4 separate regions of the Homo sapiens genome follow, and all the other regions are linked to region 2. The links come from fine-mapping of genetic effects on gene expression. A gene starts in region 2. Each other region holds a variant in brackets. All regions are shown on one strand. Distances are between the middles of the regions.

Region 1 (8,106 bases), 120 kb after region 2:
TATTGTTTCACGTGTAGATATACAGTTTTCTGAGTACCATTTGATGAAAAGGCTGTCCATTGAATTGCTTTTGCAACTTTTATTTGGGCATATTTATGTGAGTCTGTTACTGGTTCTATATTTTACTCCATTGATCTATGTGTCTATTCCTCTGCTAATACTGTCTTAAATATGGTAGCTATATAGTAAGCCTTAACACTGAGTAGATAGATTTCTCCCCTTTTTTTGTTCTTTTTCAAAATTGTCACTGGTTTGTTTTTATTTTTTACTTTATGCAGATAATCTGTACTATACTTTGGTTTCATGTATCAAGTAGTTTGTTCCAAGTTGTGCTTTAAGCAGAACAAATAAATTTTCATATTGTTCTTTGTGTTAATCTGCAATATAAACCTATACCAAATTCTATTTTGTGTATTTGTTTATTGTAGTAATCTGACTGACTCTTTTGCCTCCAGACTCATCTCTTTCAAGGTCCCCAACTGAATCTTGTTTTAGGTGGAACTTAGAAGCAGTAGAAGTTAAGAATCTATTTCACAGCCTTAGTAGTCTAGTTTCATTCTCTATATAATGTTGTCTATGCAAGTGAGCTGCTCTCCAGTGCCTTAGTTTCACTAATGTTGGGGAAGGTCTCTTCTCTTGTTTTGGACTTCTCTATCACATTGCCTTTCTCAAGAGAAGACATATAATGAAAGTTGATATCTGGTGTTCTAGGACTTCTTCAGAAGCTTGCCAGTTTTTCAAGCTGATTTCTCTCACTGGCAACTCTTCAGAGTGCTGTTCCTACTCCACCCTCCCCTGGTGGTATGTATCAGTTTTCTACTCATCAGCACCCACCTACTCCTGCCTACTGTGTTTCTCAGATGTCTGCTGCCTGGCTAGCTCATTGCTGCTTTTGTCACTCATAGAGCTGTCTTCTTCCCTTTTTTTGGCTTTCTGCCTGACTTCCAGGGCAGCTGCTCTGTCATTGCCTGTCTGCCATTCTGTCTTTTTTCCCCCTACCCCCCACAGATACAACATCTACTCTAATACCACACATTCTCCATGTTCAAACTAACCTCATCACTTTCCCCACCACATTCCCCAAAACTGGTCATCCTCCAGCTTATAGCATTGCAGTTCACTGAAGTTAGACATCTGGGCCTTGCTTACCTCCAACATCTCATTAGCCTTCGATTCTACCCCTATAAATCCTCTTCTCAGTCTCCTTTAGATATTCCTGCCCTGCTGTGAGATCCATCTGGTTTATTGGCTAGATTACTTCAGAAAGCTTCAGTCAGTGACCCTCCTTACTTCAAACCCCACCAGTTGATCCTTCACTCTGCCATCAGTCATTGCTTCTAAAATCTAAATTGTTCCATTTAACCTTGCTGTGATAAAACCTTTGGTAGTTCTTCAGTGTGTTCAGTGGTAAGTTAAAACTTTCACTGTAATGTACAGGCCCCTTCATGATATGATCGCTGCCTCCTCGAGCCTCATTGTGTGCATTTCCCCGCCCCACCCTTTCCTCACCCACCCTAGTCTTTCATGTCTGCCATTTTTACATTCATTTAGCAGATATTTATTGAAGCCCCCTGTGATGTCCTTACCTAGGTCTTTCTTGTTGCCAGGACCAGACAGGCTTTTTCAAGCTTCCAAGTCATCTCAGTTTGAAAGACTATGTCTGACCCTTGTCTTGGCCAATTACTCTTTATCCTTCCAAGTTCAATGATTGTCCCACTGCACTCCAACCAGAGTGAGAGAGCAAGACCCTGTCTCAGTAAATAAAAATAAATAAATAAATAAATAAATAAATAAATAAATCAGCCATAATTTATTTAATCATGTCTCTCTCCCCCATTGATAGACGTTAAGGGTATTTCCAGTATTCTTCTCTTGAAAACAATGCTACATTGAATAACCTTGTACATGGGTCACTTTGAAAGTATGGATATGTATCCGTGGAATAAGTTTCCAGAAGTGGAATTGTGTCAGAGGGGTTGTGCATTTGTAATTCTGATGAATATTTATAGATTATATGAGAGTACCTGTTTACTCAAACTCTTGCCAATGCAGCATTATCAAAGTTTTTTATGTTCGCCAGTGTGATAGATTAAAAAATGGTATCTCAGCCAGGCGCAGTGGCTCACGCCTGTAATCCCAGCACTTTGGGAGGCTGAGGCGGGCAGATCACGGGGTCAGGAGATCGAGACCATCCTGGCCAACACAGTGAAACCCTGTCTCTACTAAAAATACAAAAAATTATCCAGGCGTGGTGGCGGGCACCTGTAGTCCCAGCTACTCGGAAGGCTGAGGCAGGAGAATGGCATGAACCTGGGAGGCGGAGCTTGCACTGAGCCGAGATCGCGCCACAACATTCGAGCCTGGGCGACAGAGCGAGACTCCGTCTCAAATAATAAAAAAAAAAGATGGTATCTCAGCATTGATTTCTTTGATCATCAGTGAGGTTGAGCATCTTTTCATAGATTTAAGAGAACTGTATGGTTTTTTGTGAGTTATGTTTCATATCGTTTACCCATTTTACTTTTAGGCTGGAAGCAGCTGTTTTAGTGGAATGGTGGAACAAGAAGCCAGATTGCCATGGAGAGACAACTCTTTCTAGAGATTTGGCTATGAAGCAGAGTAGAGACAATGATAGCTGAAGGATTGATGTAGATGCAAAGAAATTTTTCATCTTCTTTGAAAACTTAATTGTGTTAAAAACTGGTATGAAAGGGAGGGGTTAAAGCTAGAGATGGTGGTAGAAAAAAATGCAGGGTTCCTAAAGGACTGAGATTCCTGGATGGAATTTCAGGGAAGGGGAAAATTTCTGGATATAGTGACTGGGGAGTTAAGGGTGTCTAGTCCAATGGCTTTTATTTTCTTGGAAGGGTAGGCAAGGCCAACAGCCACATGTGTGGGAGGAGATGGTTAGAGGGGAGAGGAGGTTTGAAGGCACCGCTATGGAGAATTGGAGAGAGCTAAGGAAAGACAGAAAGACTGCAGAAAGTGCTTAGGGTTCCACTGAAGCGGAAATAGTGATTTGTAGTGATACAACCCTTATGAGTTATTTGATTTTTTTTTTTTTTTAAGCAGCATCTGGCAGTCCAAGTATAGGGCTGACAGTTTGGGATTTTTCTTTCCATGTTGGTGTAAAAGAAGAACAGTGTAGTGAAGGAAGTTAGGACAAAAGAATGATTGAACTGACACCAAGTTTTCTTGATTTGGTAGAAAAGGAAATAAAGATAGAGCAGAGATATTGAAAAGAATTAGAGAGGGGTTCAAGAGACTGAAGGCCTGGGTGAGGTCAGAGAGCAGGTGTGGTAGACATAACAGAGAGAACTACAAGGATAGAAAGTGTGGTTGGAGAGTGGGAAGGCAAGATTTATTCAGTATGGGGGCTTTTCTGGGTGATGACAGCATCTGGAGTACAGCCATTGTCGTGAGTGGCCCAAGTGTAGCAGAGATAAAGCGTTGTTGGAGTGAAGGAAGTCAAGGAACTGAGAGGCTGGCCTAGATGGGGATTTTGGTTGTCATCCATGAGGATATTGAAGTCATCCAGGAGAATAGCAGGCCTGGGGGACAGGAAGGAAACTGAGCCACTTACAGTGTCTTCAGTGATAGGAAAGCACAGGGCAAAAAGCTTTCAAGAACAGGGACTGTTAAGCCGGGTACAGTGGCTCACACCTATAATCCTAGCATTTTGGGAGGCCAAGGCGGGTGGATCACTTGAGGTCAGGAGTTCAAGACCAGCCTGGCCAACATGGTGAAACCCCATCTCTACTAAAAAAAAAAAAAAAAAAAAAAAAAAAGAAATACAAAAATTAGCCAGGCATGGTGGCACGCGCCTGTAATCCCAGCTACTTGGGAGGCTGAGGCAGGAGAATTGCTTGAACCTAGGAGGCGGAGGTGGCAGTGAGCCTAGATCACACCACTGTACTCCAGCCTGGGCAACAGAGCGAGACTGTATCAAAAAAAAAAAAAAAAAAAAAGAACAGGGACTGTTAGAGCAGGCTCCAGGAGAAATGCTTTGCATATGGCATTCTTGAGGAGTGAGGAGGACCTCAACCCTACTTCCTGAAATGGAGCTCTGAGATGTTGGAGTAGAAATTTGGAAACCAGAGAGAGAAGTAAGGATAGTGTTGTTGCAAATGCATTGTATATGGGGGGTCGGGAAGTCACAGGAGTTTGCCTCAAAGTCTTTCTCGGAGACGGATGAGGTTTTCACTGTGATTTTCCTGGTCGTGGTCTATGGATATAGTACCTGTTAGTGACATGGATCTTCTTAACTTCTGATGTGTCTTTTCCTCCCTAGTGTACGCATACCAATTCTCTCCACAGCTTCCATCACCATGCATTTGTTCTTTTCCCTTGTTCTTGTATTACCTTTCTGGAAAGGAATTTTTATTGTAGGCTAATTGTTACTCCCACCAGTATTTAACCACTGGATATTTCATATGATTGATCTCTTCTGATTTGGAAAATAAAAATGTAATCTCATTATATTCATTTGATTAGTGGGGACAGTCAACACTTCTTTGTGTATTTTCTTAGCTGTTCGTTTTTCTCGTCTGTAAATTATCTGTTTAGGTCCTTCAGATTTTTCAAAATTGGACTGTTATGTTTTCAGTATTGTTATGAGTTCTTGTTTCAATTATTTATGACAGTTCATTTTCTTTTTTAAAATAGACTTTTTTTTTCTTAGAGAAATAAGAAAAAATAAAAATTAAAATAGACTTTGTGTTTTAGAGAGTTTCA[G/C]GTTCACAGCAAAATTGATCAAAAAGTATGGAGAGTTCCGGCCAGGCGCGGTGGCTCACACCTGTAATCCCAGCACTTTGGAAGGCCAAGGTGGGCAGATCACAAGGTCAGGAGTTTAAGACCAGCCTGGCCAATATGATGAAACCCCATGTCTACTAACAATACACAAATTAGCTGGGTGTGGTGGTGCACACCTGTAACTGTACCTACTCAGGAGGCTGAGGCAGAAGAATCTCTTGAACCTGGGAGGTGGAGGTTACAGTGAGCCACAGTCATGCCCCTGCACTCCAGCCTGGGCAACAGAGTGAGACTCCGTCCTAAAAAAAGAAAGAAAGAAAATATAGAGCATTCCTAAATACCACCTGTCCCCAACACCTGCACAGCCTCCTCATTATCCACATCCTACACCACTGTGGTACCTTTGTTGCAATTGATGGACCAACATTGACTCCTCATTATCACCCAAGCTTTGGTGTTGTACATTCTGTAGATTTGGACAAATGTATAATGACATGTGTCTACCATTGTAGTATCATACAGAAGAATTTGACTGCCCTGACAGTCCTCTGCTCCACCTGCTTACTCCTCTCTCCCTTTTCCTAACTGCACAACCACTGATTTTTTTTTTTTTTTTTTGAGACGGAGTCTCACTCTGTCCCCCAGGCCGGAGTGCAGTGGCGCCATCTTGGGTCACTGCAAGCTCCACCTCCCGGGTTCATGCCATTCTCCTGCCTCAGCCTCCCGAGTAGCTGGGACTACAGGTGCCCGCCACCACATCCGGCTAATTTTTTGTATTTGTAGTAGAGACGGGGTTTCACCATGTTAGCCAGGATGGTCTCGATCTCCTGACCTCGTGATCCGCCCACCTCGGCCTCCCAAAGCTGGGATTACAGGCATGAGCCACCACGCCCTACCTTTTTTTTAAAAAACAAGGTCTTGCTCTGTCACCCAGGCCTGAGTGCAGTGATGATCACTCCTCACTGAAGCGTCGACCTCCCAGGCTCAAGTGATCCTCCCACCTCAGCCTCCTAAATAGCTGAGACTACACACACACACCACCATGCCCAGCTAAGTTTTGTATTTTTTATAGAAATGTGGTCTTGCTGTGTTGTCCAGGCTGGTCTTGAACTCCTGAGCTCAAGCAATTTGCCTGCCTTGGCCTCTCAAGGTGTTGGGATTACAGGCATGAGTCACCGCACCTGGCCTTTTTTATTTTCTTTTTTTTTTTTTAACCAGTGATCTTTTACTGTCTCCATGGTTTTTCACATTGGCTTCTGTCACTTAGTAATATATGTTTAAGTTTCTTCTACGTATTTTCATGTTTTTAGCTTATTTCTTTTTAGCAGTGAGTAATATTTCATTGTCTGGATGTGCCATCACTTATTTATCCATTCGCCTGCTGAAGGATATCTTGATTGCTCCCAGTCGTGGCAATTATAAATAAAGTTGCTGTAAACATCCATGTGCAGGTTTTTTTTAAGTGGCATAAGTTTTCATCTCATTTGGTTAAATACCAAGGAGCACAATTGCTGGATCATATGGTAAGAGCTTATTTATTTTTTTGAGAGACTACCAAGCTGCCTTCCAAAGTGGATGTACCATTTTGCATTCCCACCAGCAGTGAATGAGAGTTCCTGCTGCTCCATATTCTTACAAACATGTAGTATTGTCAAATGTTTTGGATTTTAAAACCAAAATCCATTTTCATAGATGTGTAGTGGTATCCCGTTTTAATTTGCAATTACCTAATGACTTGATGTTCTGTGTCTTTTCAGATGCTTATTTGCCGTACTGTTTATCTTCTTTGGTGAGGTGTCTCTTCAGGTCTTTTGCCCATTTTTAATCTGGTTGTTATTTTTCTTGTTGAGTTTAAGAATTCTCTGTCCTTTGTCAGATCTATCTTTTGCAAATATTTTCTCCTAGTCTGTGGCTTATCCTCTGATTCTCTTGGCATTGTCTTTCACAGAGTAGACATTTTATATTTTAATGAAGTCCAGACTATCAATTATGTTCTCATGGATCATGCCTTTGATGTTATATCTAAAAAGTTCTCGCCATACCCAAAGTCATCTAGATTTTCTCCTGTTATCTTCTTGGCATTTTATAGTCTTATGATTGATATTTAGGTCTATGATTCATTTTTAGTTAAATTTTTGTGAAAGATAATAAGGTCTGATATGGATTAATTTTTCTATATGTAGCTGTCCCTTTCCAGTATCATTTGTTGAAAAGACTATCTTGCTCCATTTTATTGCCTTTGCTCCTTTGTCAGTTGACTATATTTATGTGGGTCTGTTTATGATCTCTGTTCCGTTCCATTGATCTGTTTGCCTTTTCTTTTGCTAATACCACAGTCTTAATTACCATAGCTTTAAAGTAAGTCTTGAAGTCCAATAGCATTAATCTTTGACTCTTCTTTAATATTGAGTTGCCCCTTCAGAATCTTAATGTCTCTCCATGTAAACTTTAGAATCAGCATTTTTATATTCACAAAATAACTTGCTGAGATTATGATTGAGATTGCATTGAATCTATAGGCTTATTTGGGAATAACTGACATCTTGACAATATTGAGTCTTCCTGTCCATAAACATTATTTATGATGGGCTTCTTCTTTATGTTTAGGAGCTTTTGTTTTTTCTGTCAGATATTCCACTTCTACCTTTATGATTTCTTAATTGCCTTTTATGCTTAGAAAGTTTTTCCTCATCCTGAGCTCACATATTCATTTATTTTCTTTTAAAATGTGTTTTCAAGCATTTAATTTTTAAACCTATGTGGAATTTATTTTGGTATATGGAATGAGGTGGTGGTCTAACTCCCTCCTCTCAAATATGTAGTTATTTTTCCCAAAACCATTTTCTATTAATTTATCAAGAATAGACATGTATACATATACATATATAATAGTCAGCCTTCCACTTGTTGTTTGACCCTTGTGAAGGAAATTGTATGAGTTTCCAATTTTGGATTAGGCTCAGGTAGTAATTGAGCTGGGTTCTGCCAGAGATCCATGTTAATTCACTATCCAAACAGAGTTATAAAATGTAAGTTTTATGAAAATCTAACAGTATATCACTGGTTTAATGATCACAGCCTAGGAAGAATGGGGAAATTGTCAAAATCTTCTGTGGATGCACCTGAAGGCCACTGCTGAACCCATTTCCCTGCTAGGCACGGCTGCTGGTACCAGGGGCAAACTCCTGGAGTATATATGAACCACCTACATCTCCTTCTCTTCCCCCCCTACCCTTGAGATTTTCATGTGTCCCTTAAGGATGTGTGTCCTACTTCCCTTGGAGAGTCACTACCACATTGAACACTTTAGACTGTGAGTCCTGTGAAGATGGGGCTCATGAGTGTATTGCTCCC
Region 2 (8,097 bases):
TGGCCATCCACACTTCTAAAGCTCTATTCCTTCCTCTTGGAGAGCAGAGCCACCAGGCTGGAGCATCCTTGCCCTCTACCCAGTTTTCCTCATTCCCTCTCATTTCAGGCCAAGCCCAAAGTGTGTTCCTTCTCTCTTACCTCTCAGACTTACCTTTGTTCTAACCTACACTTCCCTCCAGAGCCTTCTTTGTTTGCCCAGGTCTTGTATCTAGCTTTTTCCTCGCCCACCTCCTCCCCATAGACCAGTAAATAAGCCAAACATAAAGATCCTGTTATTCCCTTCCCCAACAACTTCCTTTTACCATCCAAACTTCCAAAAGGAATGTTTTGCCCAATTTCCACTTCCTCCTCAATTGCTCACTCCCTCCTTTAATCCAAACCCATGCCCTCAACACTTTTCCTACTAAATGTAACCACTTGCTAACAAATTCCCTTCTTCTCAACAGTCATGTGACACTGCCAGCAGCCTCAGTCCTTCCTAAAAGTGCCCCTGCCCTCATCTCCTTTTGTTTCCGCCATAGCCCCTCTTTCCTGCCAATCCAAAGCATGAGCATCGTTCTGTCTCCCTCACAGCTGCCACTGTGCCCTCAGTTTTAATCTCTCTGCTGGGTACCAATGACTGCAAATCTACTCTGTATTTCCAAAGAACCTCAAATCAATCTGCTGTGACCAAACTCACCAACTCATCCTTCCACCCCAAATCAACTCTCCCTTTTCATGGCCCTAACTTCTGTAGCTCCAAATTGGATTTCAAAGGCCTAAGCCATCAAAACTAGCCTTACAACCTTCAGGGCATCCCATCATTTGCTGGGGATCAATTATTACATCTAAACAAGAAAATGGGGATGTTTAACCAAAATCTGTATTCACCTCCCTGATGCTCCAACTCCTGGCTACCAAGTGTTACAGGTCTGTCTCTATGATATTCCTGGACTCTCTGTGCCCCCACATCCTCTTGTGCTGCCATAATCGGCCTTCTAACATGACTCGTGCCTCCCATTCAACAAATACAATTCTGTTGATACTGTGTACAGGGAAATTGTGCTAGACACTGGGGCTGAAAGGGGTGAGTCGTCAACAAGTGCAGCAGGAAACTTGCCCTTTAAGGACACGATGCAGGGGAGAAGCAGCCATGGAGACAATCAGCCATGGTGCCCTCTTTGTGTGCATGCAGGGACTAGGGTGTTGACATGGAAACAGAGGTTCTGCAGCAGAGTGTTACAGTTGAGATGTGATGGGGAGCAGTGCCTCAAAACAAGGGGGAGTGGGGCCCTCAGAAGCCTCCACCAAAGGCCCAGAGATGGGGCCCGAGGAGAGCTACACCAAGCTGCACCAGTCACAGTGGGACTCTGAGGCTGAACTAAGAAGCCTATGGAACACTGTCCATTGAGCCCAAGTCCATAAGGCTGGCCTTCCCGATGCAACATCCCTGTTCCACACCCTGCCAGTTGACTGTACCCCCACCCCCCAGCTGTGGGCTTCTTTGCTTCTGCCACACTGCCTGGATGGCCCTTCCTCCCTGTCTTTCCACTCCTCACACCCATGCCCCATTTCTTTCCTGTTAATCTGTTGGGTAGGACCCTTGCAACATGCTGCCTTATGTGGTCAATACTTGTACAAGCTCCTTCAAGCACACAGAAATGACTACACAGCCAGACTGTAGAAAACTGGAACTTGGACAAGAATATTGCTCCGATGATCTAACCCTCCTCAGGGGTTGAGGAAGGTGCATGCAGAAGCCACAGGAGTCCTTCAAGGGACCTCTACTTCCCTTGAGTGGCTGTGTCCCATTCTGTTTCTGAGCCCTGTCCTCTGAGGGCCCCAGTGCATCACTACCCCCCCACTTATGGTAGGGCTCACCAGGGGGATAGCCACGCTTGGGCAGCTCCACGCCCCAGGCGTCAGCCACATGGGTCAGAAGCAGGTGTGAGAGGTGGCGGTGTGCATGCTGGTCCCAGTGGACACCATCCCGATGACGGTGCTGTACTGCATGCCGGAAGTGAAAGTGGAGGTCTAGGACATCAAAGCAGTGGTCCCCGGCCAGCGTAGCACTGTAGAAGTTCCCTTCAACCACATCCCGCCGCAGGGAGCCTGCCAGGGGCTGGAGCTAAGTGAGAAAGTGCAGCCTCTAAGAGCCACAGAACGCAGCAGGGTCTGAAAGCAGGGTGTCCTATCTACCAGTCTGCTATCCCATCTCTTGTCCTGATGGGCCTCAGTCACTTGCCTCTGGCAGGAGGAAACCCCCAGTGATACGTTCCCCGAGGGGCATCGCCATGTTCCACACCAGCAGGCAGGAGTCTGGCAATACTTGGTCCATGCGCACAAACACCCGCTCCAGGTTCTCCCGGTAGCTCTCCATTGAGCAGCGACCATATCTGTTGGATAACACACAGGGTGGGCAAGAGCACAAGGGTGGACTGCCTCAGCCGTACTTCCAGCCCCAACCAGTATTCCCCTTTCCCTCGCCCCAACCTGGAGAGATCCCAGAGGCAGGAGTTGATGATCACCAGGTCCGGGGCAGGTCCATATGTCAGCTCTTCCAGAACATCCTCAAGGTACTCGGAGTAAACACGAGTGAGGAAGTAGAAGCGCACAAGGTGGTGGCCAGAGCCCGAGCAGAACTGGCGGACCTCACGATACTGTGTCCCGTTGTGCAGCTCGCCCAGCTGGCCCCCAGCCACCAGCTGGTCCTGTTCAAAGCTCAGCTCCCCCTACCCACCCCCCCCACCCTACTGGTCAGACCCATGCCAGGGAGGAGAACCCTGCCAGGCCAGGGTCTGTGCCCACCCACCACTGACATGGCCACCAAGCTTCCCTCACCTTGGCTTTCAGCTGGGCAGCTGTGAGCAGTGAGTCTTTCTGGAGCAAGAGCACCAGGTCCTTGTACACAGCCCTCTGAACTGGGAGGAGACAGAGATCCCAAGGCTGAGGCAGACCTCAGCCTGCCCCAGCTCCTTCCAAGTCCAGGACCCCATTTTCCCAGGGCTGAGGTGCCCGACACCAGCTCTGTGGTTGACTTAGACGCAGGAGAAAAGATGAGGTTAAAAAGTCCTGGCATTGCCTCTGTTCTGTGTGCCTCCTGGCCAGCAGTATACAGTGACCCAAGATCACCTGGCAGAAATTAAGTCGGCCAAGTCACCCAGGAGACACACTACACAATGCAACGCTTTCGTGATGGAAATTATGGGGAGCTGTCAGGGCGAGAAATGCTGAGCAAGGATGGGCTAAAAAGTGCACAGGTTATTACACCTGTCAGGACTCCTGTGGAAGATGTGTGGGACATAAAAAGAGAAAACCTACTGGACGGAACAGACCAGAAGACAGACAAGAGATGTGAGATGGAAACAAATGGTCCAGACACACTGAACGGGCTGCAAGGTGTGGGACTGGAAGCGTCACCCTAGAAGAGGCACTCACTGGAGTCCCCCAAGATGACCACGAACTTGTTGTGTAGCAGCTGCTGGACTTCCGAGGCCTGGAAGTGGACCATGTCGCTTCGCAGCGGGCGGCGCGGCTCCTCGCTCGACAGACAGAAGACCATGCCGCCACCAGCAACGACAGGCTGCAGGGAGAGGCCACTAAGCAGCGCGATGGTGGGGACTCTGGGCAGGTCAGCCTCAGGGCTAGCCCCTCCGGGGCTGCTCAATGCTAAAGGGAGGAGGTGACGGCAGCAGAGCCATGGTGGCGCCAGCCTTGGTCACACTTGGTACCAGAGGCAGGGGGTCGTCCAGCCAGCAGGCCTCCAGGGCACTGGGGAGCTTCCCGCGCGGCGCCGCCCTGCGCCTCGCCACGTGCCCGCCGCCGTCCCGCGCATGCGCGCACCCGCTCGCGCCAATTACCAAGTCCCGGGGCTCCGCGGTGTTCACCCGCGACCCGGGTATGCCTGCGCACCGCGCGCCTGGCCCGCAGCGGGCTCCTAGCCAAGCCTCATGTTCCCGCGCCCCAGTCGGCCAGTCGGTTCTGCAAAGCTCCCGCCCCGCAGAGACCGTGGGTCCAGGTTAGCCGTCGGTGCACAGCCCAGCGCCCAGCGCTCTCCATGCGAGCGTCGCTGTGGCCCCGACGGCGCCTCAGGCCTCGGCGCCTCGGGCTGCGACGCTCACAGCTTCCACTTCCGTTCACCCATGTCCCGCCCTGAGCGACCCCCAGTGCCCGAAGGGAAAGCAAGGCGATGGAGGTGGCCGCCACAGGGCGCAGGAGCCAGGGCTGGGCCCACTTGGCGGGCGCGAAGCCCAGGTACGGGCTGGGGTCTCGGGGCGGCAGCCAAGTGAGGCTGCCCACAGTGGTGATGGCCGCGGCGGCGGCCTCGCCACGTGACCCGGACGGGCGGAAGCGGAAGTGCCGGCCTGGAGCCCGCTCTAGGTGGGTGTCCCCTCGGTGCTTCCCAGCTGCCGTCTGCACCAGCCATGGACTGCTACACGGCGAACTGGAACCCACTCGGGGACTCTGCCTTTTACCGGTGAGCTGCCCCGCCCTCCCGCCCACGGCCTGGCTTACCCTGCTCGCCCGCCGGCTGGAGTCTCCCGGCGGCGTTCGCCCCTGTCACTACTGGCGCTGGGGTCCGCCCCGCGCCGGCTCTCCCCGAGCGTCTGCCACTTAGCGCACAGCCGCCTTTGGGCAGGGAGCCGGGCCTTCCCCTGCTCCAGAAAAGGAAACTGAGGCAAGCACAGTGGTCACCCCGAAGCCCAGGTCTGTTAGCCTCCGGAAAGATGCTCAGATCTCGCTGAGGGAGGCAGCTCGCGGGTGACAGCGAGTGCCCAGTCTCCTGCCGGAAAGTGCTGCTGAAGTCAGACCACAGGGGCGCTCCGAGGGGGGCGGGATCGCACGGCGGGCGGGGTAACAGTGCTGACCAAGGCTGGGAAAAGGGGGCGAGTCGTCCGTGAATCCCGGAACAGCGGAAGTGGGAACCCCTGGGTTAGGGCAGCCCGCCCATGGGAGTTGTAGAGTCCTAAACCACGGATTTTTCTAAAGTGTAAACCCGTTACATCGTTACCCAGATTAGGATTTTCCCATAGCTTCCCTAATAGGAAAAACTACGAACTTCTCGTGGAACGTCTATCTGTAAGGCAGCCCGTTTGTCTCTCCAACCTCATCTACCGCTCTCCTACCCAAATCTTGCGTTCCAGCTGCGCAGAATTACAAGGCCCTAACCAGTCTGCAGTTTCTGTGGATACTGCCATTTCTCTCTTTATCTCACTGAAGAATTTTGCGCATCCTTCAGGACTTAGTAGTTCAAGGGTTCTTTCTGGAACTGTGCCTGATTCTCCCCCAATAGAATCCTGTGGGCCTCACTGGGCCCAGTGCTAGGGTCTTTTAGGTATGGTCTATTTGTATATTTAGGCGACATTTGTATAGGTTTCTTCTGCTAAACCAGGCTCCTTCAGGGCTGAAAGCATTTTTTTTTTTTTTGACAGAGTCTTCCTCTGTTGCCCAGGCTGGAGTGCAGGGGCACTCGGCTCACTGCAACCTCCGCCTCCCGGGTTCAAGGGATTCTCCTGCCTCAGCCTCCCGAGTGGCTGAGACTGCAGGCCCCTGTCACCACGCCCGGCTAATTTTTGTATTTTTTGCTAGAGGTGAGGTTTCACCATGGTGGCCAGGCTGGTCTTGAACTTCTGACCTTAAGCAATCTATCCACCTTGGCCTCCCAAAGTACTGGGATTACAGGCGTGAACCACTGAGCCCGGCCAAAAGCATGTTTCTTGCTTCTCTTTATCACCAGTGCATATTTAGAACAGTGCTTGCTATGTAATAATTGCCCATTAAAGTTTTTTAAAAATATTTTACTGGGCCGAGCTTTGTGGCATGTTCCTATAGTCCCAGGTACTGGAGAGGCTGAGTTAGGAGGATCACTGGAGCCCAGAAGTTTGAGGGTGTAGGGACCGATGTTAGAACCTGTGAATAACCACTGCACTCCAGCCTGGGCAACATAGCATACTCCCTCTGAAAAATTAAAAATATTATTTTAGGCCAGGCGCAGTGGCTCATGCCTGTAATCCCAGCACTTTGGGAGGCCAAGGTGGGTGAATCACCTGAGGCCAGGAGTTTGAGACCAGCCTAACCAACATGGTCAAACCCTGTCTCTACAAAAATTAGCCAGGCATAATGGCAGGTGCTTGTAATCCCAGCTACTTGGGAGGCTGAGGCAGGAGAATCGCTTGAACCTGGGAGGCGGAGGTTGCAGTGAGCCAAGATAGCGTCATTGCATTCTAGTCCAGGCAACAGAGTGAGACTCCGTCTATATATAGATATATCTATCTATATCTATCTATAGATAGATAGATATAGATAGATATATAGATGTATCTATATATATATAGATACATCTAGATGTATCTATATATAGATAGACATATGGATGTATCTATCTATAGATACATATAGATGTATCTATCTATAGATAGACATATAGATGTATCTATCTATAGATAGACATATAGATGTATCTATCTATAGATAGACATATAGATGTATCTATCGATAGATAGATGTATCTATCGATAGATAGATAGATGTATCTATCGATAGATAGATAGATATATGTTATGGATTGCAAGTAAAGATCACAAAGACATTGCATGGGGGTCTTACTTAAATAGAAGACATTTGTTTGTGCTAATGAAACTGTATACCATTCTCACTGACATATTAAAACTTTTAAATGTAATTTTTGGTACCTAATGTGATATACTTCCTAGATGGACAAGTGCCCTGTGGCAGTTTTTAGAGACCTGTTGCATTTGTTGTTTATTTATAATTCTCTCTTAGAAATATGCCTGTGCAATTGGCCGAGCGTGGTGGCTCACGCCTGTAATCCCAGCACTTTGGGAGGCTGAGGCAGGCAGATCACGAGGTCAAGAGTTCGAGATCAGCCTGGCCAACATGATGAAACCCCGTCTCTACTAGAAATACAAAAATTTGCCGGGCGTGGTGGCACACACCTATAATCCCAGCTACTCGGGAAGCTGAGGCAGGAGAATTGCTTGAACCTGGGAGGCGGAGGTTGCGGTGAGCCAAGATCGCACCACTGTACTCCAGCCTGGGCAACAGAGCAAGACTCCATCTTGGGGAAAAAAAAAAAAGAAAAGAAATATGCCTGTGCAGTATGAAAAAATTGCAAAAACTTCATTAAAAATCCATAAATGCAGTAGGAAATGATTTCAACTTGTTTCTGTGGAGAAGGAATTTCAGCTGACCAAGGTAGCCATGTCATTTAGTATTTACACACCAGCTAGTTGATACAACATTCACTTTTAAAATATCAACTTTACTTGTATTATTTTGAAGATACCTGTTGCCTACCCAGGCTTATTAAATCAAAGAGTACTGCAGACATTGACCTCATTACCACAGAGCTCTTATTTGTCAGATGTAGTCTTTGCTTTGTTGACATGTTAATAAGGTTTTAAAAGAATGTATGTGTTGGGTGCATGCCACAGACACAATCTGAATGATTAATCTACTCTTACCTGTGCTGTACTGCCAGAAAGGATTAGGGGTCTAAGGCTTGCTGGGGAGGATATTTATGTTTTAAGTTGCTAACAGCTATTGAGCCTTTCTTATGTACTAAACATGCTAAGTACTTTATGTGTTTTAACTTGCTTAAGCCTTACAATCCCATGAGGTAGGTACCATCTTACTGATGAGGAAGCCGAGGCACAGAGAGGCCAGGTTATACAACTAGTGACCAGGTTACACAGCTATTGAGTAGTGGAGTCAGGCTTTGAACCCAAACAGGTTCTAGACCTCTGTTAAAAAATAGGGTTTTGGGGGCGGGCAGGTTAACAGGAAAATATAAGAGCATGTTTCACCTTTTCCACCAGAATGGAAATGCTTTAAGAGCAAGTACTTAGTTTTGTTCATATGTGTGCATAGCTTTATGCATAGGCAGGACTTGATACATGTCTGAGTCAGTGAATGAATGATAAAACAGGTGGCAGACATTACATTTCAAGTCCTATCTGCCTGACAGGATTCTTTTGTATTGGGAGTAGTATTCTGGAGAACCCACTCAATTTGGGAAGGCAAGGAGGAGAAACGGTGACCAGTTCTTATGGGACTCCAGAAGTTAAGCTATTTTTTTAATCCTAAAAATGCAACT
Region 3 (8,106 bases), 190 kb after region 2:
GCAGATAGGTCAAGGTTCTGAGGTGGACCCAATATGAGTGTCCCTAAGAAGGGATTGCCTCATTGCTGACTACATAAAATAAAGCAGTAGAATTTGAGAAATTATACAAACAAGAAACTTACAGTCTAATATTCAGTAATAAGGAAATCTTTTAAAGAAAAAAGCCCTCAGGTCTATTAAAAAGCAGAGCTGTCCGGAAACTCATACTAAAAAGGGACACTAGCAGTCCCCTAGGTCAACTTCCTCTCAGTATAGGAAACCTCCTAATATTGTTCCTGAGTCAGAATCATACAGCCTCTACTAAGCACATTCAATCTCAGGGATATCTCCCTCACCCCCCACATTATGGGGGGACCCAGTCTGTGTTCTGACAATGCTTATTCTTTTAAAAATTATTTCTGTTGAGGTTGCACATTGCAGCAAATGAGCGGTTCACTATGTCTGGGGTGTCACTTAGCAGGGATGAGAATCTAGAGAATGGGCCTGGAGAGAAGCTAGCAAGGCCTGGTGAGAAAATTCCTTCTAAGCCACAGTGAAGAGTTTGGTCTTCCTAAAGCAATTGAAGAGCCCTTGACAACATCCCATTTGTGTTTTTTAAAAAATCCCTCTGGCAGCAGTGAGAAGGACTCATTAGAAATGCGAAAGCTGTGGCAGTAATGCTGGTGGCCTGGACTCGGGTGGTGAGAGGGTGCTGTCCCAGAAAGGGTGAAGTGAGGAGGAATTAAGGATGGCACCCACTCATGACTCATTGAATTTATAGTCAAACATTTAAAATACAAAGTATGTTTTACATTAGTTGTCTCAAGTCACTAGTTGTTCCCCATCTGTACTTGTGTTAACTTTGGTACAAGGCTTTACACATATTTTCTCACCCTGATGTTTCATTACATCAGGATTTTTTTTTTTTTTTTGGTTTTGTTTGTTTGTTTGTTTGTTTGAGAGAGGGTCTCACTTTGTCACCCAGGCTGGAGTGCAGTGGCACGATCTTGGCTCACTGCAGCCTCAACCTCCCAGGTTCAAGTGATCCTCCCACATAGCCCTCCAAGTAGCTAGGACTAAAGGCACGTGCCACCATGCCCAGCTAGTTTTTGTATTTTTTTGTAGAGACAGGGTTTCACCATGTTGCCCAGGCTGGTCTTGAACTCCTGGGCTCAATTGATCCACCCACCTGGTTGACCCAAAGTGCTAGGATTACAGGTTTGAACCACCTTGCCCGGCATTTTTTTCAATTTTGATCAGTCATTTAACTCATTAGCTATTCTTCCTAGACTTGTATCATGTACCTAATCAACAGACATACTTTGTAGGTCTTCATCATCTTTTTTTTTTTTTTTTTTGAGACGGAGTCTCTGTCACCCAGGCTGGAGTGCAGTGGCACAATATGGGCTCATTGCAACCTCTGCCTCCCAGGTTCTGGCAATTCTCCTGCCACAGCCTCCCTAGTAACTGGGATTAAAGACACCCACCATCATGCCTGGCTAATTTTTGTAGGCACGGGGTTTCACCATGTTGGCCAGGCTTGTCTCAAACTCCTGACCTCAGGTTATCTGCCTGACTCAGCCTCCCAAAGTGCTGGGATTACAGGCGTGAGCCACTGCGCCCAGTGTCTTCATCATCATTAATAACAATACTGATGAGGTGGGAGGTTCGGTTAAGGTGCTTGGCTTTGCACTCAAGGAAGCACACACCTGAGTAACAAAAGCTGTTTAGGAAATGAGCCACTGTGTTCTCAGGAGCTAGGTGCCTGTTCCTGCCGTCTCTGATCAGTCGTGATGGAACCTGCAGATCAGACCAGGGCCCTACCTGTGGTTCCTTCTGCACCCCTGCCCTTCAGATCTGTGATGGGCAGGACCAAAGAGCAGGCCGAAGAGCTGGAACCACGAGCACAAGGACCATCTCGGCCCACTGCCCTGTGATAAAATGTGGCCCAGTGAACATCTCCGCCTCTGTCCAGTCAGATGCAGGCTCTTCCATCCTTGAAAAGGACCTAGTGAGAGTAAAGGGCAGGGGGCAGGAAGCATTTCATGTGTGTGGCGGTGGGGAGAAGAGTCGTGCGCACACAAATTCTGCTGCCTGTTGAGTGAGGCCTCTCCCTCTGCCTTCCACTGTAGCTTATGCTCTGTCTTCCTAGGCCAGTGAAGCAGACAGTAGTGCTTGCCCTCAAAAGCTTCTGAGTGGATTGGAACAGGATGTTAGTGATGTTCTTTACAAGGCCTCACTGGCCCCCAAGTTCACTTTCTGTTCCATTCATGTTGTCAAGTGTAGCTCCCAGAAGTAATTAACGCACTAAGCCTAAATGATGCAATGAAAGGTGCCTACACTTATACAGTGACACTACCATCCTCACCTACAATATTAAGTTCCCAGAGAAAAAAATTCGATCCCATAATATAAATTCTGTACTTACAAATTAAAATCTCGAAGGAATTAAAAATTTTTAATTATCTCCCTCTGCTTTTTTTTTTTTTTTTTTTTTTTTTTTGAGATGGAGTCTCACTCTGTCCACCAGACTGGAGTGCAGTGGCACAATCTCAGCTCGCTGCAACCTCCACCTCCAGGGTTCAAGTGATTCTCCCACCTCAGCCTCCCGAGTAGCTGGGATTACAGGCATGCACTACCATGCCCAGCTAATTTCCATAGTAGAGACAGGGTTTCGTCATGTTGGCCATGCTGGTCTCAAACTCCTGACCCCAAGTGATCCGCCCGCCTTAGCCTCCCAGAGTGCTAAGATTACAGGCATGAGCCATTGCGCCTGGCCTCCTTCTGCTCTATTTTAATCAAAAGGGTCCACCAGGATGCCTGGGTTCCCTCAGCAGCTGCAGCTTGGACCATCATCAGCCTGGGCAGACAGAGCAGTGCCAGGAACTCCCATGCTGGGTCAACCCTAGGCCTAGCCCAACCCTAGGCCTCATCCTGCTTCTCTAAAGCATAGTGAAACCTGATAGCATTAGTCTTCACAAAGCTGTGTGTCCCCATCACCATGTCCGCCTTAGACCTCATAAGAGACATAAGACATAAGAGACTTCATGCTATCTGGTGGAAAGACAAAGTAGGAGAAAAGACAGAAAACCTTCCCTGTTTCACTTCTTTAAGATGCTATTATCTAGAGGCCGTAACGTGAACACACAAATCTGAGATGAAACTCCAGTCCCCAGCTTTTCTTCTACTGGTCTTGAATCCCCATTCCCCATCTTCTGTCCCTCACCCACTGATGACTTTAACACCTGGCTTACTGCTCCTTTTGAGCCCCTGTTCCTGACTCTGCTTTTGGAGGCATCAGTCACCATGTGGATGATCCATCTATCCTCAATCTTTCTATTCCTCAGCTTCCTCAGCCACCTGATCCCATGGTCAAGTCACCATCTGCCCTGTATCTGCACTGCCCTTGGAATCTCAACAAGGCATCCGCCCTGTTTACTGCCTCCTTCCTCCCACCTCAGTATTCTCTTTTATTCCAGTCATTTTTGTCTTCATCAAGTCCTTAGAGTTATTGATGCCTCCACTTTCTCAACATCAGTCACACCGAACATGTCCTCACCTTCCTCCTTACTCTGTGTGTTTTTGAGTTCTGTTTTTGAGCGTTTGAGTTTTCTGATTTGAGTTTTTGTGGTATGTCATTATTACCTTTCCTTATTCCCTCATGCTTTCTTACTTTCATAGCAAACTCTCTAGTAAAACCCAGTTATATG[C/T]CTCTATCTGATATAGCAAACATCACTGGGCAAAAACACAAAACAGTGCCAAATGCTCTCACACTGAACTCATGACCACAAATCTCATAGAGGTAATTGGTGCCACCTAGCAATGCTATTGCTCTTTCTTTTCTTCCTGAAACCTCCAGCATCTGCTCTTGCCTGTCCCATCATACTCACACCTTAGCTTGTGACCTGGCCTCATTCTTCTCCAAGAAATCAGACAAGAACACTGTCATCCTCCCACCCCCAAACAACCAGCCTCTTCAAATCTGTACCAACTCTATTCTCTCTTGTTACAGTGGAAAAGGGTTTCTGCATCTCTCAATCCACCTGTCCACTGTGCTCTTGGCCCCATTCCGTCCTGCCTGCTCAGGGATGTTGCTGCTATAACCATCTTCTCTCCCACCTCCATCAGCAGTTCCCCTCTTTAACCACTACTCTCATCAGCCTATACATGTTACATTTCCTATCTTTTAAAAACAAAAAATCTGCTAATCTCACTTTCCCTTCCACCTACTATCCTATTTCTCTGCACCCCTTCCCAGCAAAACTCCTTTAAAGAGTTGGCTTTCGGCCGGGCGCGGTGGCTCACGCCTGTAATCCCAGCACTTTGGGAGGCCAAGGTGGGCGGATCACAAAGTCAGGAGATCGAGACCAGCCTGGCCAACATGGCAAAACCCCATCTCTACTAAAAATACAAAAATTAGCTGGGCGCGATGGTGCATGCCTGTGATCCCAGCTACTCGGGAGGCTGAGGCAGGAGAATCGTTTGAACCAGGGAGCTGAAGGTTGCAATGAGCCAAGATCGCGCCACTGCATTCCAGCCTGGTGGCAGAGTGAGACTCCATCTCAAAAAAAAAAAAAAAAGAGTTGGCTTTCTCCCTGCAAGTTCTCTGTTCGCTCTGTTCCTTCCAGGCTTGGCCCCACTGGGACTGCTTTAGTCAAGATCACCAGTGACTGTCCTCTTGCCAAATCCAAAGGTCATTTCTCTTTTCTGATTTTTTTTTTTTTGTCCTTACAGCAGCATTTGAAAGAGTCAGTACCTCCCTCCTCTTCCTCAGAACACTTACTTCCGTAGCATCACCCCACTCACTAACCTGGCAGCTCCTTTGTTATTTCTTTGTGACCTCCTCCTCTAAAACATTGGAGTATACTAGACTCGGGCGCTAGCCCACTCTGTTTTCTTTTGACACACTAGCCCTTCAGGATCTCAGCCAGTCCTATGGCTTTAAGTACAACCCATATGCCAGGGATCCTCAATCTGCGTCTCTAGGCCAGTCACCTGTCCCCCTTCCCAATGTGGGCTCCTGATTTCCTCCTTCCCCCGACACCAGTCCACCCCACTCTTAGCCATCTAAATAAATAGTACCACCTTCTGCCCAGTTGCTCATGTCTAAAATCCGGGAGTTACCTTCCTTCCTCCCCTCTCCTCACCCCTCACATCCAGTCTGCCACTGAGTCCTGATACAGGCAGAGCCTCCCCACTTTTCTCCAGCGTAACTGCTGTCATCTGAACAAGCCCTCGTCTCTCACTGCTTGCCCGTGGGACTGTGGGCATGACTCATATGCGCAGCCTCGTCTGCAGTGGCCTGGCAACTGGTCCTCCTGCTCTCATCCTAACCCACTTTTAGTTTTTCAAATGGCAGCTGCTGGTCCTTTTGAAAATATAAATCATTGTCACTCCTTGTCTTACAAATCCTGTTTGAGGCCAGGTGCGGCAGCTCACGCCTGTAATCCCAGCACTTTGGGAGGCCGAGGCGGGTGGATCACCTGAGGTCGGGAGTTCGAGACCAGCCTGACCAACATGGAGAAACCCCGTCTCTACTAAAAATACAAAATTAGCGGGCATGGTGATGCATGCCTGTAATCTCAGCTACTGGGGAGGCTGAGGCAGGAGAATCACTTGAACCCGGGAGCCGGAGGTTGCAGTGAGCCAAGATCGCGCCATTGCACTCCAGCGTGGGCAATAAGAGTGAAGCTCCATCTCAAAAAAAAAAAAAAAAAAAATCCTCTTTGGTCTTCCAGAGATCTTGAGAGAAAATCCGCCCATGTATACAAAATTTAGAGACTTTTGATCAGATGTGGTGGCTCACGCCTGTGTAATCCTACCACTTTGGGAGGCTGAGGCAGGTGGATCACCTGAGGTCAAGAGTTTGAGACCAGCCTGGCCGACATGGTGAAACCCTGTCTCTACTAAAAATACAAAAATTAGCTAGGCATGGTGGCGCACACTTGTAGTCCCAGCTACTTGGGAGTCTGGGGTGGGAGAATCACTTGAAACTGGGAGGCGGAGGCTGCAGTAAGTCAAGATCATGCCACTGCACTCCAGCCTGGGCGACAGAGCAAGACTCTCTCAAAAAAGAAAAAAAAAATGAGACTCTTAGTGTTGATACCTAGTCCCTAGACTTGATATGTATTTCTGTCTGAGAGATCATGCTCAATTCCTCCAGCACACACACACTGTGGCTCACACCCATGGGGACCTTATGGTTCTGATGGTTTTAAAGGCCCAGTCTTCATCCCAGCTGAGACACTGTGTAAAGCAGTGTTGAGAAGGCACTGTGGTAGCAAAATCCATTCCACCCACCAGTGCCATAAAAACTAATATAATGCCTGATCGAGGTGAGCCTTAATGAGAATTTTTTTTTTTTTTTGGCTGTTCTGGTTGAAGAGAGGCCCAGGGCACCGATCCCTGAGGCATCCCCAGGGCTTCTAGAGAACATGGGTGGAAAAGCACTAGTCCAGGGCATGTTCTTGATTCAACACTTTAATAATCATGATTTTATTTGGACTGTGAGACTATTCACAATTTCTTTTTCTACTTAATTTTTTTCCAAATCTTTCAATGACATTATATGTATGGTTGAGAATTTTTCAATTGCCAGTAGTGAAGAATCTCAGATCTTACCCCCAAATTCTCTAAAGAAATGGGCAGCATAACTGTGTGATGTTATATTTATGTATTTATGCCTTGGCTTGTTCTGCAGACATTGAACAAATTCATTTACCAGATACTGAGAGCCTACCATGTGCCAGGCATTGTGCAAGGTGTGGGGAATACAGAGATGAAAAGAGACGCAGCCACTCCCACAAGGAGCTGTAGAGGGAAGTGAGCCAGGTGCAAGCAAAGACAGACAGTAGACCACCTCCTGCTCACTAGCAAGGACAGAAAGGCGAGTGCTAGCAACTTGAAGGTACCTTGCAGATCAAAGAGATAAAGGTAAAAGGGAGAAAGGATACTGTGGCCTGGGCGGTGGTGAAGCCCATGGCTGTGTGGGAATGTGAATTGGTTCTGATTTTCTGAATTAGCAGTCTGGCGGATGTAAGCAGCATTAAATATGAAAACACCCCATGGGAGAAAAAGAAAGGAATTGGAACAAAGATTTTCACTCGTCCTCCTCTCCCTGCAGCCACCAAGTATTGGATACCCTGTGAGCCTGTAGTCAGAGTCCTTTACAGACCCCGGCAGTGTTTTAGATGGTCTCTGGTGAGGATCGGAGGTTAATTGGAATGATGTGATATAATGATCCTGCAAGTTTTCAATACCTTGGGGACGAAGCGTATCAGCGTAAGAGGTGGCTGTACTGAGAGGGGTCAGGCTGCTCGTGGGCAGTGCTGCTTCTACACATGTGGTACTCTGAGCTCCTCACCTCTCCAACCTGTCTCTCCAGGAGAAGTGTGCCCAGTACTGGCCATCTGATGGACTGGTGTCCTATGGAGATATTACAGTGGAACTGAAGAAGGAGGAGGAATGTGAGAGCTACACCGTCCGAGACCTCCTGGTCACCAACACCAGGGTAAGATGGGTCGTGGGTGGACTCTGCCCACAGGAAAAGCAGGGTTACCCCTGCCTCCCTGATCCCCTTTTTTCCAAAGGAGAATAAGAGCCGGCAGATCCGGCAGTTCCACTTCCATGGCTGGCCTGAAGTGGGCATCCCCAGTGACGGAAAGGGCATGATCAGCATCATCGCCGCCGTGCAGAAGCAGCAGCAGCAGTCAGGGAACCACCCCATCACCGTGCACTGCAGGTATGGCTCACCCTTGCCCTCAGCGGGAGAGAGAAAGCGAGGAGGGGCAGATAGGGGAAGCTGATGACCATGGGTCAGACTGAAGAAAGCCATACAAGAGCAAGATATTGGTGAGCACATAGTAGTTGAGATTGATGCCAAGACAGGATTGGATGCTAAGAGAGAGGACCTTGGAGCTTGAACTTGGCACAATAAGTGCTAGGGGACTAATGTTCAGATAGTGGGCAGGAGAGCAGCAGGGGAGACTGGCAGTGGAGACCCCGGTTGTGCTATGAACAGAGGGTGAAAGAGAAGAGGAGTCAAGGGTGTCTCCCAGGTTTGAGCCTGGGTTGGTGTGACCAGCAGAAGAGAGACAGTAAAGAGGTTTGTTTGAGGGGAAAAGTTGA
Region 4 (8,106 bases), 50 kb after region 2:
AGATCCTGTTTCATGCAAACCAACTGTAAAAAGTTATTTATGAGCCCATTGGGAGTAATTTAAATTTGAAAACCACTTGTATATTAGATGATTTTTAAACAATTTTAATTTTTTAAAGGTTATTATAGTAGTATGGTTACATTAAAAAGAAAGACTCCTTTCTCTTACAGATAGGTACTGAAGTATTTTGGATGAAATGATGTTGATATCTGGAATTTGCTTTAAAATAATTCAGCATGTTTGGAGGATTACAGACGAGACAAGAATTGCCATACGTTGATAATTATTGAAGCTGGATAATAGGTATATAAGGGTTTATTATAGTATTTTCTCTACTGTTGTATATGTTTGAGAATTCCCATAGTAAAAAATTAAAAGAGAAACCACTGTAAGGGAAGAGTTTTAGTGGATTTCATGTCCATTTGTTAGAAATAGAAAAATGTGGCCAGGCACGGTGACTCACACCTGTAATCCCAGCACTTTGGGAGGCCGAGGCGGGCGGATCACCTGAGGTTGGGAGTTCGAGACCAGCCTGACCAACATGGAGAAACCCCCGTCTCTACTAAAAAAAAAAAAAAAATACAAAATTAGCCTGGCATGGTGGTGCATACCTGTAATCCCAGCTACTCGGGAGGCTGAGGCAGGAGACTTGCTTTAACCTGGGAGGTGGAGGTTGCCCTGAGCCGAGATCGCACCATTGTACTCCAGCCTGGGCAACAAGAGTGAAACTCTGTCTCAAAAAAAAAAAAGGAAAAGAAAAAAAAGAAAAAGAAATAAAAAAATGTAGTATCTTTGATTAATTTTCAAAAGTATATCACAGAAGATAGATATTTGCTAGCCATATTTAAAAGGAAATATTTGTATAATGGGGGTGAAAAAATGATTATCACAGTTTAGTAAACACAGCCATAGTGCTTCTTCCTTTGGATTCATGTTTCTTTTTGGTTATGATAGCATTAAAACTTGGAATCAGGCTTTTAAATTGCTCTATAATATATTAAAATGAGATTTTTCAAACATAATGAGAAATATTTAATCATATGGATTGCACTAAAATATTTTTAAGATGGGTTTTACATTACTATTTTAATTGATGGAAGTACCATTATTGTGATCATTATGTATTTCATTTGAAATGTTTTGTAGTATTTATAGGTATTAGTACCTGTGTTCTGTTTATAAATGAACATGTGTTGGGGATGTATACTCTTATTTATTGGTGGATGTGCAGTAAAAGGTTTGTTTGTGGAGAACGGACTGGGCAGGGTATAGAGACTTATTTGATGTTTATTAGAGCAAATGTGGCCAGTGATGATGGTGTTCTGGATTGGCTTAGGGTGGGAGGAGTGGTGATAGGGATGGAGATACATGGACAAGTATGATTTAAGCAGTAGAGGCATTAGGGTTCTAGATTTCTGGCTTTTTGGAAGAGATGATTGCTAGTTAATGAACTGAGCTTTTGTGTGTGGGAAGAAGTTGAAACCTGGCCCCTGTGAATTGTGCAAGTAGTTCTTAAATATTGATTGACAAATAGCTTAACGAGCAACTAATTTTCAAATATTGGTTGACAAGTGGCTTATTACAATATTGTAAATGCATTGATACTACCATTAGTAAAGAGAATGTCTTCCTTTGATAATGTTAGCAGCACTGTTACCAGAGCAGTGTGGGATAGTTCCAGGACTTTCACTGTCTAAAAGGAACTGGAGGCCCAAGCTTTTACGGGGATACTTCTGCTCTCCTGGTTCCCATGTCCCCAGTGATGTGAATGTCCCTGACTCAGTGCCTCTGCTCACGCTGTCTGTGAGATCACTGCCTTCCAGTGCCTCTTACCTCTTGGGCCTGCCCACTTTGTTAACAGGGACAGATTTCACAGTGATTTCCAGCCAGTATTTCTCTCTCCCCAGTTTGGGGTGTTAGCTAGAATGGTCCCTCAAAGCCCTCAAACACGGATGAGAAATAGAAGAAGCTCAGGGAGACTATACCTGGGCTAGGTTCTTGCTACCAGCTGGTGGAAGACAAAGAAAACCCCTTTTCTTCCTGTATTTCATGCCCAGTGAGCAGTAGTGCCATCAGCAGCAGTTGTGAACCCCTAAATCAGTGATTCTCAATATGACTGACATGGTGGGGAAGACGTAAGTTTGAAAATGCATTTTCAGGCTAGGTGTGGTGGCTCACACCTGTAATCCTAGCACTTTCGGAGGCCAACATGGGAGGATCACTTGAGCCCAGGAGTTCGAGACCAGCCTGGGCAACATAGTGAGACCCTGCTTCTACAGAAAAATAAAAGCTAGCCAGGTGTAATGGCATGCACCCATAGTCCTAGCTACTTGGGAGGCTGAGGTGGGAGGATTGCTTAAGCCCAGGAGATCAAGGCTGCAGTGAACATACCACAGCACTCCAGCCTGGGCAGCAGAGTGAGACCCCTGTCTCAAAAAGAAAAAGCATTTAAAAAAAAAAAAGGTTTGTTAGTGTTTGTCTCAAAATTTTGCTTAATTTAAAATTATGTATATATTTGAATAATATGTGTCCATGTTAATAGTTCTAAAAGTATATATAGTATATATAGTAAAAGGTAGTTTTCTCTCCCCCTGCCTTTCAGCTTTCCCTTTCCATAGGCATCCACAAGTACTATGAGCAATACTTGTGAAACCATGCTGAAATACTACATGCTCATAAAATGTAAGTTACTTAAGTTTGGTATTTCAAGTAACAATAAGGGAAGATAGGAGAGTTTTATGTTTATCAAAAGGGGTGAATGTTATAGCAGATTGAGATGAGATGTTCTTACCTTTGGGTGGGATCTTAAGTGGAGCTCAATTCGGTTTCCCCAATGTTAGTGGGAGAGATTACTTAAACCATCCATACTTATCCAGTTGTACTTGGTAAGTTTTCAAAGGTTCTACTTTGAAGAGGGCTTTTGTTGAGCAAGTAGTGGTTAATAGAGCAGCTCAGTTACATGTGTAAGTTTTTTGATGTGGGAAAAGGGCTTTTGTATACAGAAGGACTATTTTAAAATTATTTGGGCTTTAAATTAACATGTATTAAAGTGGTAAATTTAAAACCCAGTTTTCTTTTAGTCTTGTTATTGTACTTGTAAGCATAGGCATTTTGTATAGAAATAAGAATAGTAATTTTCACCTGCTTGTCAATTAAGTTAATATAAATTTAACAGATTTAATTGCTCCAGGCCCCTTACTTAGTGAATTAAATTTCCTTAGATGTTTAAAATACATTTACACAGTCAGTCTGTCAGGCACAGTCAGTCCTTGACAGGTCAGAGTTACCACCTTAAACAGAAACTTCTTAAGCTCTTGGGCAATCTGTGATACTAAGAAATTAAATTTGTAAATGTAGTAAAACAGGTTTTGGTTAAGACTTCCAGTGCTTTTCATTAGCTGAATCTGAATTACCAACATTTAAAAAACACATACCCTAAACTTAACGCAAAAGTACTACTAGTACCATGAGTTTGATATACCATACCTCATTTTATTGCTCATGTCTTTTCTTTCTGGGATTGTGATGCCACTTACCCAATTAAGGAGGACAGTTTTATCATCTCAGAAAGCCATGGTTATCAGATTAAAAATACAGAATCATGATACAGTTATTATTGGTCAGAGATTTGAGACTGGGAAAGGGAACTAAGGGGTCTGTGTTTCCAGGATAATTCTACTCAAGAGATGCTGTGCCTTTCCTTATGTTAAGAGTCCTGAATGTGGCATCAAAGGGGGAATCCATGTTCAGAGTTTGTTTTGCAACCCCCCATACCTTTTTTTGAGACAGGATCTTGGTAGGTTGCCCATGCTGGTGTGCAGTGGTGCAATCATGGCTCACTGCAGCCTTGACCTCCTGGGCTCAAGTGATCCTCCCGCCTCAGCCTCCTGAGTAAGTAGCTGGGACCACAGATGTACGTCATCATGCCCAGCTAATTTTTTGATTTTTTTTTTTTTTTTGTAGAGATGAGGCCTCACTATGAGCCTAGGATGATCTCAAATTCCTGGCCTCAAACAGTCCTCCCGCCTCAGCCTGCCCAAGTGCTGGGATTACAGGCATAAGCCACCATGCCTGGCCTTTTCTTCAAAAATAACCCTTCAATCAATTTTTTTTTTCCTGGTCAAATT[G/A]GATTTTGTGTTTCTTTTATATATTCCTTGTCAGGCCCTACAGTTATTTTAATTTTGGGTGTTGGATAGACTAGGGTTCATATTCCATGCCTGCCATGCTTTTTGTGAACTTGGGCAAAATAGTTAGCTCTTCTGAGACTCACTTTTGTCACCTAGTAAATGGGTTCAGCTGTAGTACTCTATGTATTTGTTTGTTTTAAGCATTAGATAGTGCGTGGTAAATGCTTAGCACAGTTCTTAGCACATAGTAAATCTTTAATAAATGTTAGAAAATATAATGATCTTGATTCTCTGTCTTCCCTCCCTAGTAGTTGATTTGGGGCACAGTGTAGCATTATTTGAATTATCACAGAATAACTTTTTACCTTTCTGATTTTAACAGGGGAGAGTGTGTAAAGGATGGGAGAGGGAAGAGAGAAAAAAGCTGAGTAAATGTGATCAACTTTACAGTCTTTATTCCCTGAACTATCTTTCCCTGAGTTATGTGACACATTCTCCTTGTTTTCCTCTTTCTATCTTTGTGGCCACTCCTCAGTTCCCTAGGCCCCTCTTCTTTGACCACTCCTTGTTTGAGTTACCAAAGATTCCATCTCTGGCCTTCTTGTGTTGATTCTACACGTTCTTCCTGGAAGCACATGTCCATGGTTTCAGCTTCCTTGCTAATTAGGAGAAACTTTGTCCTCAGAACCCATCTGGATTACAGCCAACAGCCTACTGGTCTCCATTGGGCTATCTCCCAGGTACCTATAACAGTCTCAGAACTGACTCATCTTCCTTTTCAGCGTGTTATTTTTATAATCTCTATCTTGATGAATGGCACAACACAGTGACCCAAACTGGAAACTTGAATGTTGTTCATCTGGTTGGTGATCTGTTCCTAACTGTTTTACATCTGTAACATTTCTCAAATTTGCCTATTTTCCACCATTTCTCCTATCCCTTAATTCAGGCTGCTTCTCACCTAGATGACTGCTGCAGGTTCCCTTGTTGTCTACTCATTATTAGTTTCTCATTCCAAGTCATTGATTAGATGGCTGCCAAAAGTGATCTCTTTAACTTCCCAACTTTAGATTCTGTGAATAAAATCCAAACTCCTTAACAGAGCAGGCCCTCATGATCCAACTCCTCTTAACGTTGGTAGCCTTATCTTTTCTCTGAGCCCACTGCCGCTTGATCCTTGGTGGTGCTGTGCTCTTTCTTGCTCTCTGTCTTTGGTTGGACTGCCCACCTCCCTCCTTCTTACTTGACATTATAATTTATCAGATAGAGATCAGCTCCTCCAGTCAGCATTTCCTTACTGACTACTCCAAGTCTGACCCAGTGTAGATTCTGTGCTTATATCTGTCAAGTCACTTATTGTATGATAATTCATACACTTATATGATAATTCACACATTGGCATGTGTAGATTAAACATTTATAGTCTCAGAAGGATCCTGATAGTCCAAAAGGTATAGTAATGCAGTTGTCTCTTAGTATCTTCAGGTGATTGATTCCAGGATCCCCCCCATGGAGATCAAAATCCAGGGATACTCAGGTGCCTTATATAAAATGGCATATTTGCATGTAACCTATGCACATCCTCCTGTGTACTTTATAGGCCCTAAATAATCTCCAGATTACCTATATGGCTAAAACAATGCAAATACTATGTAAATAGCTGTTATACTGTATTTTTAAGTTTGTTTCTTATTTTATGGTTTTATTTGTTTATTTTTTTGATCTGTGGATGTGCAACCCACAGATAGAGAGGGTCAACTGGGCCGGGCGCGGTGGCTCACACCCGTAATCCCAGCACTTTGGGAGGCTGGGGTGGGAGGATTGCCTGAGGTTAGGAGCTCGAGACCAGCCTGGCCAATATGGTGAAACCGTGTCTCTACTAAAAATACAAAAATTAGCCAGGCATGGTGGCAGGTGCCTGTAATCCTAGCTACTCTGGAGGCTGAGGCAGGACAATTGCTTGAACCTGGGAGTTGAAGGTTGCAGTGAGCCAAGATCCTGCCATAGCACTCCAGCCTGGGCAACAGAATGAGACTCTGTCTCAAAAAAAAAAAAAAAAAAAAAGAAGAGAGGGCCAACTGTATGTAATTTACTGAAGCATGGATTCACATTATAGATGGTCCCTGATTTATGATGGTTCAACTTATGATTTTTATACTATGATGGTGGGAAAGCTGGTGTGATATACGTATTCAGTAGAAATTGTACTTCCAATTTTGAAATTTGATCTTTTCCCAGGCTAGTGATATGCAGTGTGACAATTTCTCATGGTGCTGGGCAGAAGCATTGACCCACACCTCCCAGTCAGCCATGTGATCAGGAGGGTAAATGAGTATACTCCATGGTGTACTGTGTTGCCAGGTGATTCTGCTCAACTGTATGCTAATGTGAGTGTTCTGAACACATTTAAGGTAGGCTAGGCTAACTATGGCATTCGGTAGGTAAAGTGTGTTAAATGCATTTCCTACTTAAACGATATTTTCAGTTTATGGTGGGTATATTGGAATATAGCCCCATTGTAGGGCAAGGAGCATCTTTATTTACCCAGTTGAGTTTAGTGGCAGCAGAACTAAGTTCGGTTTAGCTGTTCAGTGAGCCAAGCCTCACTTAGCATCTAATTCTGTCTTTATTTTCTGCTTTAGATAGGCCACAGCTCTCCTGAAGGGATTAAGACTTTCTGTGTGAAAAATGGTATTCAGAAGGAAGCCAGCATTAATTCTGTTTTTATACATTTATGAAGATTTGAAGGAATTTCACTGTCAATTCTGTCTTAATTGTATTCTGTATAATAAATCATAATGGTATCCAACGGCTCTTGAAAGGTTTGGTTTTTGTGAACATTTCTTTGAATGTCAAAGTTGTATTAGTTTGTTTCTCAATTAAACTGGGTGCTCTTTGAGGGCAGGGATTTATGGGACTTGTTTGTTTTGCAGTTTTATATCTCCAGCTGCTAATGCAGTGCCTGGTTTGTAGTAGGAATGAGAGATTTACTCCAATAGAACCATACTAAAGATCTTACACTTATGGATTACAGTTGATAGCTTTGTAGAGTGAACTGGTATTCCCTTTAAATGAGACGACATGACCTGAGTATAAAGTATAATCAACTACATGACTCCAGCAAGAATACCATGTGTCCCTCAGATAGCATAGCTGGCAGATGGAGTTATGCACATCAACTGGACATTTAAGACAGCTGGAGATTTCTTACATTTAGATGACAGTTTAGATTAGAAATATTTAATCTTAGCTGTACTTAATATATTATGTAGCTATATGATACATCATGTATATATGGTATATCATATATATCATATATTTAATCACATTTAATCCTTAGCTATATTTTCATCCCCAAAATGGTATATGGATCTGTTTTTATTGTCAGCTGGTTATTTATTGTTGCTTATCCATGGCTCATGAAAATCTTCATGTTACTTGGGAAATCTTTCACTCTGCCTTTTGAAGGACAGCCCAGAACCATTTCCTTCTTGGCACATGACCTTCTAACCCAGTGACCAAAGAGTATGTAAAAGCATGGTACACACTGCTTTTGAAGATTACGTGTGTCTATTCTAGATGTGTCTTATTTCTTGCAGATATATTGCCTACAAAGATTTTGATATATATATATACAGTAGACTATACTATATAATTAATATTTATACCAGATATTAAATATATAAGCATTCTACTAGAACTAAAGTTAAGAATTTGAAATAGTCTCATGTGAGTAATTAAAATAACAATAGCATCTTTTTCAAGAAAGTTTTTTTTAATATGGTGGAGATAATGACATGGAAAAAAGTAGTTAATTATTTTTGGTATTCCCGTATTTCATCAGTAGGTTGCCATAGAACATAATAGTTATATAATCAAACAGCAGAATAATTTTATATGAGGTTTATTGATACAGAAATGTTTGGTTCAGTGTTTGTCTTCCAGTTTTGCAGATTTTCTTTTCGATTTTAAAACTGGA

Direction of the effects. Positions count from the first base shown, and alleles are read on the strand shown. Sizes are in standard deviations (SD) of each study's normalised expression. Not every link is listed here.
For the expression in breast of the gene that starts at base 4,376 in region 2, C is the low allele of the variant in region 1 and G is the other (moderate effect, 0.42 SD a copy in GTEx).

What was found.
Region 1: its variant is fine-mapped to the expression of VPS16 in breast (GTEx, PIP 0.94).
Region 3: its variant is fine-mapped to the expression of VPS16 in whole blood (TOPMed, PIP above 0.99).
Region 4: its variant is fine-mapped to the expression of VPS16 in whole blood (TOPMed, PIP above 0.99).

The regions. Positions count from the first base shown.
Region 1 is chr20:2,954,898-2,963,003 of GRCh38, forward strand. All of the region lies in intron 3 of PTPRA (protein tyrosine phosphatase receptor type A), which reads left to right. Among named protein-coding and RNA genes, the nearest start is that of GNRH2, 85 kb to the right of the region's middle. RefSeq lists an enhancer at 529-588. The variant G/C (reference allele first, on the strand shown) is at 4,735.
Region 2 is chr20:2,836,370-2,844,466 of GRCh38, forward strand. VPS16 (VPS16 core subunit of CORVET and HOPS complexes) reads left to right here and starts at 4,376. Exons shown (of 24, transcript NM_022575.4): 1 at 4,376-4,458. The coding sequence starts at 4,406. It overlaps PCED1A (PC-esterase domain containing 1A), which reads right to left and starts at 4,286. Exons shown (of 8, transcript NM_022760.6): 1 at 3,842-4,286; 2 at 3,420-3,564; 3 at 2,823-2,902; 4 at 2,475-2,713; 5 at 2,227-2,377; 6 at 1,863-2,109. The coding sequence starts at 3,543. RefSeq lists enhancers at 1,812-2,111, 3,588-4,119, 4,653-5,184.
Region 3 is chr20:3,028,222-3,036,327 of GRCh38, forward strand. It overlaps PTPRA (protein tyrosine phosphatase receptor type A), which reads left to right. Exons shown (of 24, transcript NM_001385305.1): 21 at 7,364-7,489; 22 at 7,569-7,720. Among named protein-coding and RNA genes, the nearest start is that of GNRH2, 11 kb to the right of the region's middle. The variant C/T (reference allele first, on the strand shown) is at 3,690.
Region 4 is chr20:2,886,120-2,894,225 of GRCh38, forward strand. All of the region lies in intron 1 of PTPRA (protein tyrosine phosphatase receptor type A), which reads left to right. Among named protein-coding and RNA genes, the nearest start is that of PTPRA, 17 kb to the left of the region's middle. The variant G/A (reference allele first, on the strand shown) is at 4,128.